Linked DNA regions of Homo sapiens: region 2 is linked to region 1. The links come from fine-mapping of genetic effects on gene expression. Tissue or cell type: whole blood. Region 1 holds a variant in brackets; the other region holds the start of a gene. All regions are shown on one strand. Distances are between the middles of the regions.

What was found. PIP is the estimated chance that this variant, and not a neighbour inherited with it, causes the effect.
Region 2: C20orf203 starts here. The variant in region 1 is fine-mapped to the expression of C20orf203 in whole blood (TOPMed, PIP above 0.99).

Annotation. Positions count from the first base shown.
Region 1 is chr20:32,704,671-32,709,670 of GRCh38, forward strand. COMMD7 (COMM domain containing 7) reads right to left here. Exons shown (of 9, transcript NM_053041.3): 4 at 2,034-2,090; 5 at 1,913-1,950; 6 at 144-234. Among named protein-coding and RNA genes, the nearest start is that of C20orf203, 33 kb to the left of the region's middle. RefSeq lists enhancers at 835-1,582, 4,192-4,698. The variant A/C (reference allele first, on the strand shown) is at 2,218.
Region 2 is chr20:32,671,688-32,676,878 of GRCh38, forward strand. C20orf203 (chromosome 20 open reading frame 203) reads right to left here and starts at 2,254. Exons shown (of 6, transcript NM_182584.4): 1 at 1,945-2,254. RefSeq lists enhancers at 502-1,001, 2,952-3,021, 3,873-4,575.

The sequences.
Region 1 (5,000 bases):
ATGTGGACAGAATACAAAACAGCAGCTGCTGCCCCAACAGTGCTAGGGACTAGGTCATGCCTTCCCCATAGTGGCTGTGTCACAGCCTCTGCACCCCAACCCTGTACCACCCAAATAACCCAGGACTGGTTGTAACTAGTTACCTCCAAATTTCCACTCCATATCTATGAGCTGGTTAATCATCAGAGTCTGACCTATGGCCCATCGAGCAAGGGTGGGAGCATTCTGCTTCCACTGGAACAAAAGCAAAAGACAAAGTCAATTACAATAGGAAAATCTCCCCCTCTCCATCCTGCCCTAAACATTGCAATATTTAGCATTGACACAGATAGTGGGGAGGGTGCAGAAGATAGTGGGGAGGGTGCAGAACGAAGGGCTCAGTCTATATGCACATACCTAGGGATGGAGGAGGGCACAGAGTGGCAGACCACAACATTAATGTTGTATTTTTCATTCCAAGATTTAATCCATCTTGGAAAAAAAACAGTGCTGCCATCATACTGGCCCCCACATGGCTTCTACTAGACAATTGCAAGATGGGGTCTTCAGGGTAAGTTCTCAATCAGTCACTTGTTATTTTTCTCTATTTTTGTCACAGTGACATCTGAGAGCAGTGAATTGGAGAAAGGAGGCATATATATGTGTATATATATACATACATATATATGTATATATATATGTGTGTGTGTATATATATATATATATATTTTTTTTTTTCTTTGAGATGGAGTCTCGCTCTGTTGCCCAGGCTAGAGTGCAGTGGCATGATCTTGGCTCGCTGCAAGCTCCACCTCCTGGGTTCACGCCACTCTCCTGCCTCAGCCTCCCAAGTAGCTGGGACCACAGGCGCCCACCACCATGCCCAGCTAATTTTTTATATTTTTAGTAGAGATGGGGTTTCACCATGTTAGGCAGGATGATCTCGATCTCCTGACCTCGTGATCCGCCCGCCTTGGCCTCCCAAAGTGTTGGGATTACAGGCGTGAGCCACCGGGCCTGGCCAGTAGGAGGTATATTTTTACAAGTAAGTCCTCTCCTGATCCATGAAAATGGGCAGATTTTTGACTGGGTCAAATCAGGAGAAATGATTAGAGATACACTGAATAGTGCTGGTTAAAGCTGTGTGTATGACATGCGCTTGAAGCCAGATGAAAACCTTAGGCTGGGGAAATGATGATACTGATAGGTGGTTTGGCCTTACTTGGCATTTCCCATTGTTTTCTCTCTTCATGATATAAAAGCAAGGGGCTGGCGGTGGTGGTTCACGACTGTAATCCCAGCACTTTCAGAGGCTGAGGCAGGTGGATCACCTGAGGTCGGGAGTTCAAGACCAGCCTGACCAACATGGTGAAACCCCGTCTCTACTAAAAATGCAAAATTAGCCAGGCATGGTGGCACATGCCTGTAATCCCAGCTACTTGGAAGGCTGGGGCAGGAGAATTGCTTGAACCAAGGAGGTGGAGGTTGCAGTGAGCCGAGATTGTGCCATTGCACTCTAGCCTGGGCAACGAGAGCGAAACTCTGTCTCAAAAAAAAAAAAAAAGAAAGAAAGAAAGAAAGAGGTCGAGCACAGTAGCTCATGCCTGTAATCCCAGCACTTTGGGAGGCCAAGGTGGGTGGATCACAATGTCAGGAGTTCGAGACCAGCCTGGCTAACACAGCGAAACCCCGTCTCTACTAAAAATACAAAAAATTAGCTGGGCATGGTGGCATGTGCCTGTAGTCCCAGCTACTGGGGAGGCTGAGGCAGAAGAATCACTTGAACCCGAGAGGCAGAGGTTGTGGTGAGCCGAGATCACACTGCCACTGCACTCCAGCCTGGACAGAATGCGACTCCATCTCAAAAAAAAAAAAAAGAAAGAAAAGCAAGGGATCTTAATCAGCCATTAACCTTGATTAAGAGGAATTATACCTTTTCAGAAAAGTAAGTGGCTTTCTCCTCACTAAGACCTATAAGAGAACAGAAGGAGATATTAACATAATAAAAAGCCTCAGAAGCCAGTCACCCTGAGCAACCCTGGCCAATGACCTACCCAGAGTTATGAAATCCGCCTGGACCTGCTTGGCTGTGAGACTCTTCTTCAAAGCACCTGGGAGGCAGGGGAGAAATCAGTTAGAAAGGCAGACCAGTGAATTAGTCGGCAATAAGTATTTAATGGGCACAACCTATGTGACCTAAAGGACAAAAGGAACACCCAAAGACTGGCCAGCTCCAAG[A/C]TCTCAATCCAGCCATGGGGAAATAGCATCCGAAATGACCAGAAAACAAGAAAGACAGTACATTTTACAATTTATTTATTTTATTTAAAAAATATATTTATTTTTGCCGGGCACGGTAGCTCAAGCCTGTAATCCCAGCACTTTGGGAGGCCGAGGCAGGTGGATCACGACATCAGGAGATCGAGACCATCCTGGCTAACATGGTGAAACCCTGTCTCTATTAAAAATACAAAAAAAAAAAAAAAAATTAGCCAGGCATGGTGGCAGGCACCTATAGTCCCAGCTACTCGGGAGGCTGAGGCAGGAGAATGGCGTGAACCCGGGAGGCGGAGCTTGCAGTGAGCCGAGATCACGCCACTGCACTCCAGCCTGGGCAACAGAGCGAGACTCCGTCTCAAAAAAAAAAAATATATATATATATACTTATCTCAAAATATATATATATTTTTTGAGACGGAGTCTCGCTCTGTTGCCCAGGCTGGAGTGCAGTGGCGTGATCTCGGCTCACTGCAACCTACACCTCCTGGGTTCAAGTGATTTTCATGCCTCAGCCTCCTGAACAGCTGGGACTACAGGCGTGCGCCACCACACCAAACCAATTTTTGTATTTTTAGTAGAGACTGGGTTTTACCATGTTGACCAGGCTGGTCTTGAACTATTGACCTCAAGTGATCTGCTCACCTTGGCCTCCCAAAGTGCTAGGATTAAAGGGGTGAGAGCCACCATGCCTGGCACATATTTTTTTTTTAATTGTACAACACAATTATTTATCCCTCCAACCAGTGTGAGAGAAGTCAGAGACAACAGAAAAGACTTCACGGACTTGGGGATGGAGCAACTGGTCTGAGGAATGAGTAAGGATACGAATTCCTGGAGCAAGAGGCAGGGGAGTGTAATGTCAGGTTGGGCACAGGGGGCAACCACCTAGAGCTCCACAATGCATTATGTAGCCACTATTGCATGTGGTTATGCAAATTTTAATTAAATAAAATTTAAAATTCCATTCCTCAGTCTCACTAGCTATTTCCTGTGTCAAACAGTCACACAAGGCCAGTGACCATTATACTGAACACTGAAGATTACAGACCATTTACATCTGCAAAGAAAGTTCTATTGGATGGCATTGTCCTAAGAAGTTAGCTTTCACACAGTACACCAAGATGGACTAAACAGACTAACCTCTACAATTCACAAGTCACTTCCAGAGGGGCTGTCAAAACTTCTCAGAAGCCCTAGGAACACTTCCCTGTGGTGGTCACCTTGTTTTGCTAGGCTCCAATTCCTGAAAACAAAGCCAGCAATCTGGGCTTCTCAATGTTTAACCTGCAGGCTACATCCCCAGTCACAATTTGGCAACCACTCTCAAATTTTCCACTTTTTAGTTCACCAGAAAATGACTAATTAAAGAATAGGAAGATGCCAACCACCATCAAGGGAAGGCCCTGAACCTATACCCTAAACCCAAGTCCCCACCCCCAACTCACTCCAGAAAAACAATCCTAAAGGCTGTTGTACCGGTAAAATCAACCATATAAACAAAGGGAGGAAATCTTTTATCTCCAAAATCAGACTGAGCAAGGAAGCCACACGGAATAAAAAAGGCAAGACCCCGGGAAACCTTAGCCATAAAGGCCCTCTGAGAAGGTGGCTACTTCCCAGCCAATCCAAATAACTCCTAACTACCATGAATACAGTGTCTTAGTTTATATCCAATTCAAACCCAATGCTTTATTTGACAATCCCCAAACACTGGGCTTTATTATTGTAACTTTTTTTTTTTTTTTGAGACAGTGAGACACGGTTTCACTCTATCGCCCAGGCTGGAGTGCAGTTGGGCAATCTCAGCTCACCTCCTACCACACCGGGGTGGGTGGGTGGGGCTCAAGCAATCCTCCCACCTCAGCCTCCCACATAGCTGGGACTACAGGCGTGTGCCATGATGCCCAGCTAATTTTTTGAATTTTTGTAGGGACAGGGTCTTGCCATGTTGCCCAGGCTGGTCTCAAACTCCTGACCTCAAGCAATCCACCCACCTTGGCCTCCCAAAGTGCTGGGATTACAGACATGAGCCACCATGCCCAGCTATTATTTTAACTTAGTTTACCAGGAAACATTAAGCATTTTTGGGAGAAAATTTGGCAAATGCAGATAGTCAAGAATTGCACTGCCAAGAATTCACCCAACCAAGCTGCACCCAAAAGCACGCTGAGATATACAGGGGAAGCTCTTTAGCAATGTGGATAGTAGGGATGAAAGGTCATGGAGAGACCAGGCACGGTGGCTCATGCCTGTAATGCCAGCACTTTGGGAGGCTGAGGGGGTGGATCACTTGAGGTCAGTAGTTCGAGACCAGCCTGGCCAACGTGGCAAAACCCCGTCTCTACTAAAAGTACAAAAATTAGCCGGGTGTGGTGGCATGCGCCTGTAGTCCCAGCTACTTGGGAGGCTGAGGGTGCAGTGAGCAGAGACGGCACCACTGCATTACAGCCTGGCAACAGAGCAACTCTGTCTCAAAAAAAAAAAAAAACAGGCTGGGCGCCTGTTACAAAATTAGCCAGGAGGGTGAGGCAGGAGAATCATCTGAGCCTGGCAGGTGGAGGTTGCCGTGAGCCGAGATCTGCCACTGCACTCAAGCCTGGGCGACAGAGCGAGACTCCGTCTCAAAAACAAACGATGACAAAAACAACAAACAAAAACCTCAGGTCAGACCATGCTATTTTTTCTGCTCAAAACCCTCTACTATCTCCTATTTCACTCACAGTAAAATCCAAAGGTTGTACAAC
Region 2 (5,191 bases), 33 kb before region 1:
AATTAGCCGGGCGTGGTGGCGCACACCTATAATCCCAGCTACTCGGGAGGCTGAGGCAGGAGAATTGCTTGAACCCAGGAGTTGGAGGTTAAGGTGAGCCGAGATCGTGCCATTGCACTCCAGCCTGGGCAACAAGAGTGAAACTCTGTCTCCAAAAAAAAAAAAAAAAAAAAAAAATAGTAGAATGGGGGTTGGGTTGCCAGGGGCTGAGGGGGAGTGGGGAACAGAGAGTTGCTGTTCAATGGGTATAGAGTTTCAGTCACACAGATAAAAATGTCCGGAGGTCTTCTGCACAACATTGTGGTTATAGTTAACAATACTGTAGCGTGCACTTAAAAATTTAAGAGGAGCCGGGGCAGTGGCTCACGCCTGTAATCCCAGCACTCCGGGAGGCCAAGGCAGGCGGATCACAAGGTCAGGAGTTCGAGACCAGCCTGACCAACACAGTGAAACCCCATCTCTACTAATAATACAAAAAATTAGCTGGGCATGGTGGTGGGCGCCCAGTAGCTATTACAGTAGCTAGCTGTAATCCTAGCTACTTGGGAGGCTGAGGCAGGAGAATCGCTTGAACCCAGGAGATGGAGGTTGCAGTGAGCCGAGATCCCACCACTGCACACCAGCCCAGGTGACAATGCAAGACTCTGTCTCAAAAAAATAAAATAAAATAAAATAAATACACACACATAAAATATATTACATATATATTATACATACATACATACATACATATGTATTAGCTGGGTGTGGTGGCGCATGCCTGTAGTCCTAGCTACTCAAGAGGCTGAGGCAGGAGGACTGCTTGAGCCTAGAAGGTCAAGGTTACAATGAGCTATGATTGCATCATTACACTTCAGTCTGGGTGACAGAGCAAGACAATATCTCCAAAAAAAAAAAAATACTTCTTCAATTTAAATAGCTTTAGTTTTGTGGGAAAAACCAAGAACCACAGTGTGCCTGTCTCTATTTCTTGCTCTTGTTCCCTTTTATTCCCTCCTGAATTTCTCACCACACCAGGCCTTTTTGTTCTGGGACTCTTCCTCCTCTACCCTCCCCACTCCCTCCCCTGCCTCCCCCAAGCTCACAGCATTTCACACAGTTCCAGAAAAGTGCTTCTCTCCCTGACTGCCACCTGGCCCTGCTGTCTTCCCACAGGGCTGTGGGCTCCGGCAGCAGAGACCTTTTCCTACTCCCTGTGCCCCTGCATCTAAACAGACCCAGCATAGGAGAGGGGCCTGGTGAAGATGGCTGGTAGGAAGGCACTAGACTCGGGCTTTGAGAGCCAGAAGGCCTCAGGGAGTGAAGAATATGGGACTGGCAGGATCTAGGGGCTGAAATGAGTGGCCATAAAAGAAGCCCCCTCAAGACCCAAGACTCCTTGGTAGTAAGGGCTGGGCATCTCTCTGTGTCCCACCTCACACCCTGGGGCGGGTGAGGAGAGGAAGTGGAGGGGTTGCAGGGTTGGGGGAACAAGCGACAAGCCCGCCCTCCTGAGGAGCCCCAGGGCTGGTACAAACGGCAGGAAGAGGCTGAGCTGGGCCCCTGGAGCCACAGAGGCAGGAGGGAGTGAAGAGGCCCTGTGGCTGCCATGGGGGACAGTCCAGCAGCCTCCTCCTGCTCCCCTCAAGACTGGCCGGAGGTGTCTCAGCCCCCGTAGCCAACCACAGAGAGAGCACAGGGCGGAAGTGGCTGGCGCCTCAGCCATAGCTGCCGGAGATGGGCTCAACGGCCACACGGTCCCCACATTCGGGGAGCCTCACCGCAGCCCCGTGGGCACAGAGACCCAGGTGGAGCTCCAAGGGACACATGAGGCACAGGGAGTCTAGGGCAGCAGCTTCAAAACCACACACTGGTCTTTCTGCTGGCTTTTTTGGTCACCATCCCCTGCTTAAAACCCCAGGGTCACCCCACACTTTCAGCACAGACAGGCTGCATTCCACCCACCTGCAGGCTCCTCTGCCCGGCATTCATCTGTGCCACCTGCCCCGGCCATTTGGCTCCGACTGCAATGACACGTTTGTCTGGGAGATTCTTCAAGGGCACATAAAACATATCTGCCTTTGCTCACTGTGATGTCTCCGACGCAAAGCAGAGAGCCCGCCAGCGTAGCCACTCAGAGCTGAGTGGTGGTGGAATGAGTGAAAAGGCTGCAGCTGGAAGGGCTGGGAGGCGGGGGGCAGAGTGGGGGCAGCCAAGGGTTTTGGGGATCACACAGGCTTGGGAAGAAAAGTCAGCTCAGACCCACTGGCTATGTGACCTGGCCCTGCAGGTCCAACTGTCAATGGGTCTAACCCCGCCCACCTCAATGATCTGTGAGAGCTGAGCGGGGGAGACACTGTTCAGAAAAGACTGGGTCCCTGAAACTGTTGTTGTCGTTTAATCCAGCCATTTTTTTTAAGTTTGTTTAAGAGACAGGGGTCTCCCTATATTTCCCAGGCTAGTCTTGAACTCCTGAGCTCAAGCAATCCTCCCACCCTGGCCTCCCAAAGTGCTGGGATTACAGGCGTGAGCCACCGTGAGCTTGGCCCCAGCTCTTTCATTTATGGACAGGACATTTCAGGAGAGGGATCCATCCAGTCTCATCTTGGTGTTTAATATTTAAATGCACCAAAAATGGGGTGCCAATTGGTGCCAACTTTTTGGAAAGAGACTTTGATGTAATCTGCCTAAAAGTAAAATGCTCATGTTCAGCAACTCAGCCCTTCAGCTTCTAGGAATTTTGTTCTGCAGGGAAAAAAAAATGCTGTATTTGTATTATTAATATTGTTACTGGGTGGCAGGGGGAGGAAAGTATTCAGTGTTTTCAGAACCACCCACCAGGAGGCGCTTTTGCATCAGGGGCCCAATCAGGTTAGCCCAGAGCACCTGGATTTAAGTAGCAAAAACAAATGACAATCTCTAGCCCAATGTCTCAAGAACATTCCAGTCTTTTACTTCATCTCACCCTCGAAACTTCCTTTTTTTTTTTTTAGACAGAGTCTCACTCTGTCACCACGGCTGGAGTGCAGTGGTGCAATCACAGCTCACTGCAGCGTCGACCTCCCAGACTCAAGCAATCCTCCCACCTCAGCTTCCTAGGTAGCTGGGACTAGGTGCACATCACCATGCCTAGCTAATTTTTGTATTATTATTTTTTTTTTTGTAGAGATAGGGATCTTGCCATTTTGCCTAGGCTGGTCTTGAACTCCTGGGCTCAAGCAATCCTCCTGCCTCGGGCCTCCCAGTTCTGGGATTACAGGAGTGAGCCACTGCGCCTGGCCATGACCAAAACTTTTATTAGAGACAGTATCTACTTGCTTGGTGCCCTCTCTGCCCTTCCTCCTAAAGAATCCCCCTTCAAAAGGAAAAAAAGGCCATTCAAATTTGAGAGAGACTCAGGGGTCCAGAGTAAACTAAGTTAAATGAAATCAAACCTGGACCGTGGGCTTCAAGTGTGTTATTAACCCCCTCCCTCCTGTCCTGCTGCATCCTTGGCTCTGCCCTTTCACTTACGTCCACGTCTCTAAACCCAGCCGTTCTTCCTTCTCCCTTGGGTCTCTGTGTCTTCTGTCTGCCTCAGGTGTCCTTCCACACGCTACCCACCCGCCTAGGGAATACTCCTTCTGAGTTCCTGGGCAAACCACCCAGTTCTCCTCCTGAACCCTCCCCCAAAAGGCTCCCTGCACGTTCCATCTCATGAGGGCCAGGCTGTGCCCAGGTGAGGACACTCATCACCTCCACTTTTCCCATCACACTGGTGTGTGGAGCGCCCACCCCACCTGGGATGTAGAGGGATGCTCCTTGCCCAGCAGTGCTTCTCCCTGGGCCTCAGTTTCCCAGTCTAGGGTACCCCCACACCTCTCTCAGCTTGGGCGTGCTGTACTTTACCCCATGTCAGCAGTTCTCATTAAGCTAGTCTTTAAAGGAGGAAAAAATAATTTTAAAAAATCTTCCTTTGTTCTGGCCTCCGGTCTATTTACAATGACAGTTCATGAGGAACTGGGTTCTGAGCGAAAACAAACAAAATGCCTCCATTTTAGAAGGGGTAAGGTCTGGAGGGGAAAGAGGGAGATAGGAAAGAACCTGTGGTGGCCTATCCTCTCCCCGTGACAGGAAGGCCTTTGAACAACACAATTCTGATTGTGCTGTTGCTACCTCATTTCAAATCCTTCCCCCTGCCCCACCCTCCAGAAGCAGCACCTGGCATGGTAGGCAAAGCCCCATCAGCTCTGGCCTGCACGACTGGCGCTCCAGCTTTGGCTGTCCTCCCGCAGCCCTGGGATCCCTAAGCCTAGAATACGCCACGCCCATTCCCCCACCTTCCCCACCAGCCGAATTCCCCTTCCGCTGGGGAGACTCAGGTTGGGGGTCAATCTTCAAGAAGCCTCCCTGTCCAACCCACTGAGGCAGGTGGCCTCAGGGTCAGGGCTCCAGGTTTCCCCCACGCCCACCCCACTAACACACACACACACACACACACACACACACACACACAGCCACCTGGGAATTCCAGGGAGCACAGCTGCGAGGGCAGCAAGGACCACAACAATGCTGACCACAATAGTGGCTCCAGGAAGGCCTGTTCTTGTTCCGGGCGGGAGGCCTAAGGCAGTGATGCTCCCTGGCAGCCTCTGGAAGCCCAGGGGAAGCCAGTTTCTATGTGGGATTCCCTGACTCTGGCCCATGGGCTTAGGAACACATTGTGTCCCTCCACTCCCAGGGCACTGAGTCCCAGCTGTGGGGTCATCTGAGTCCCACAGCACACCTGCTCATTTGTTCATTCATTAGTTTATTCATTCATTCAACAAATATTTATTCAGTGCCAGGCTTTGGGCCAAGAAGAGAAAGCCACTAAAAAGAGCAACAGATAAATACACGGTTGCACGTGATGTCAAGTGTCATAAGGCATGATGGGGTGTGAGAGGATGCAGAGCCAGGTGGCCAGGGAAGGCCTCCTAGAGATGATGCTTGAGCTGAGATGTGACAAATGAGGAGGTGTTAGCCTGGGAGGCCACTGGAGGCCGGAGCAGCAGAGGGAGTGCAGGCATGGAGCGGCTGGCCAGACACGAGGCAAGAGGAGAAACAGAGGCTGGATCATGCAGGACTGTATGATAGGTGGGGAAACCGAGGCATGGAAACTGGTGACTTGCACATGGCCCTGCAACTAGTTAGATGCTCGCTTCCTAAGTGCCACCCACCCCAGGAACCAGGC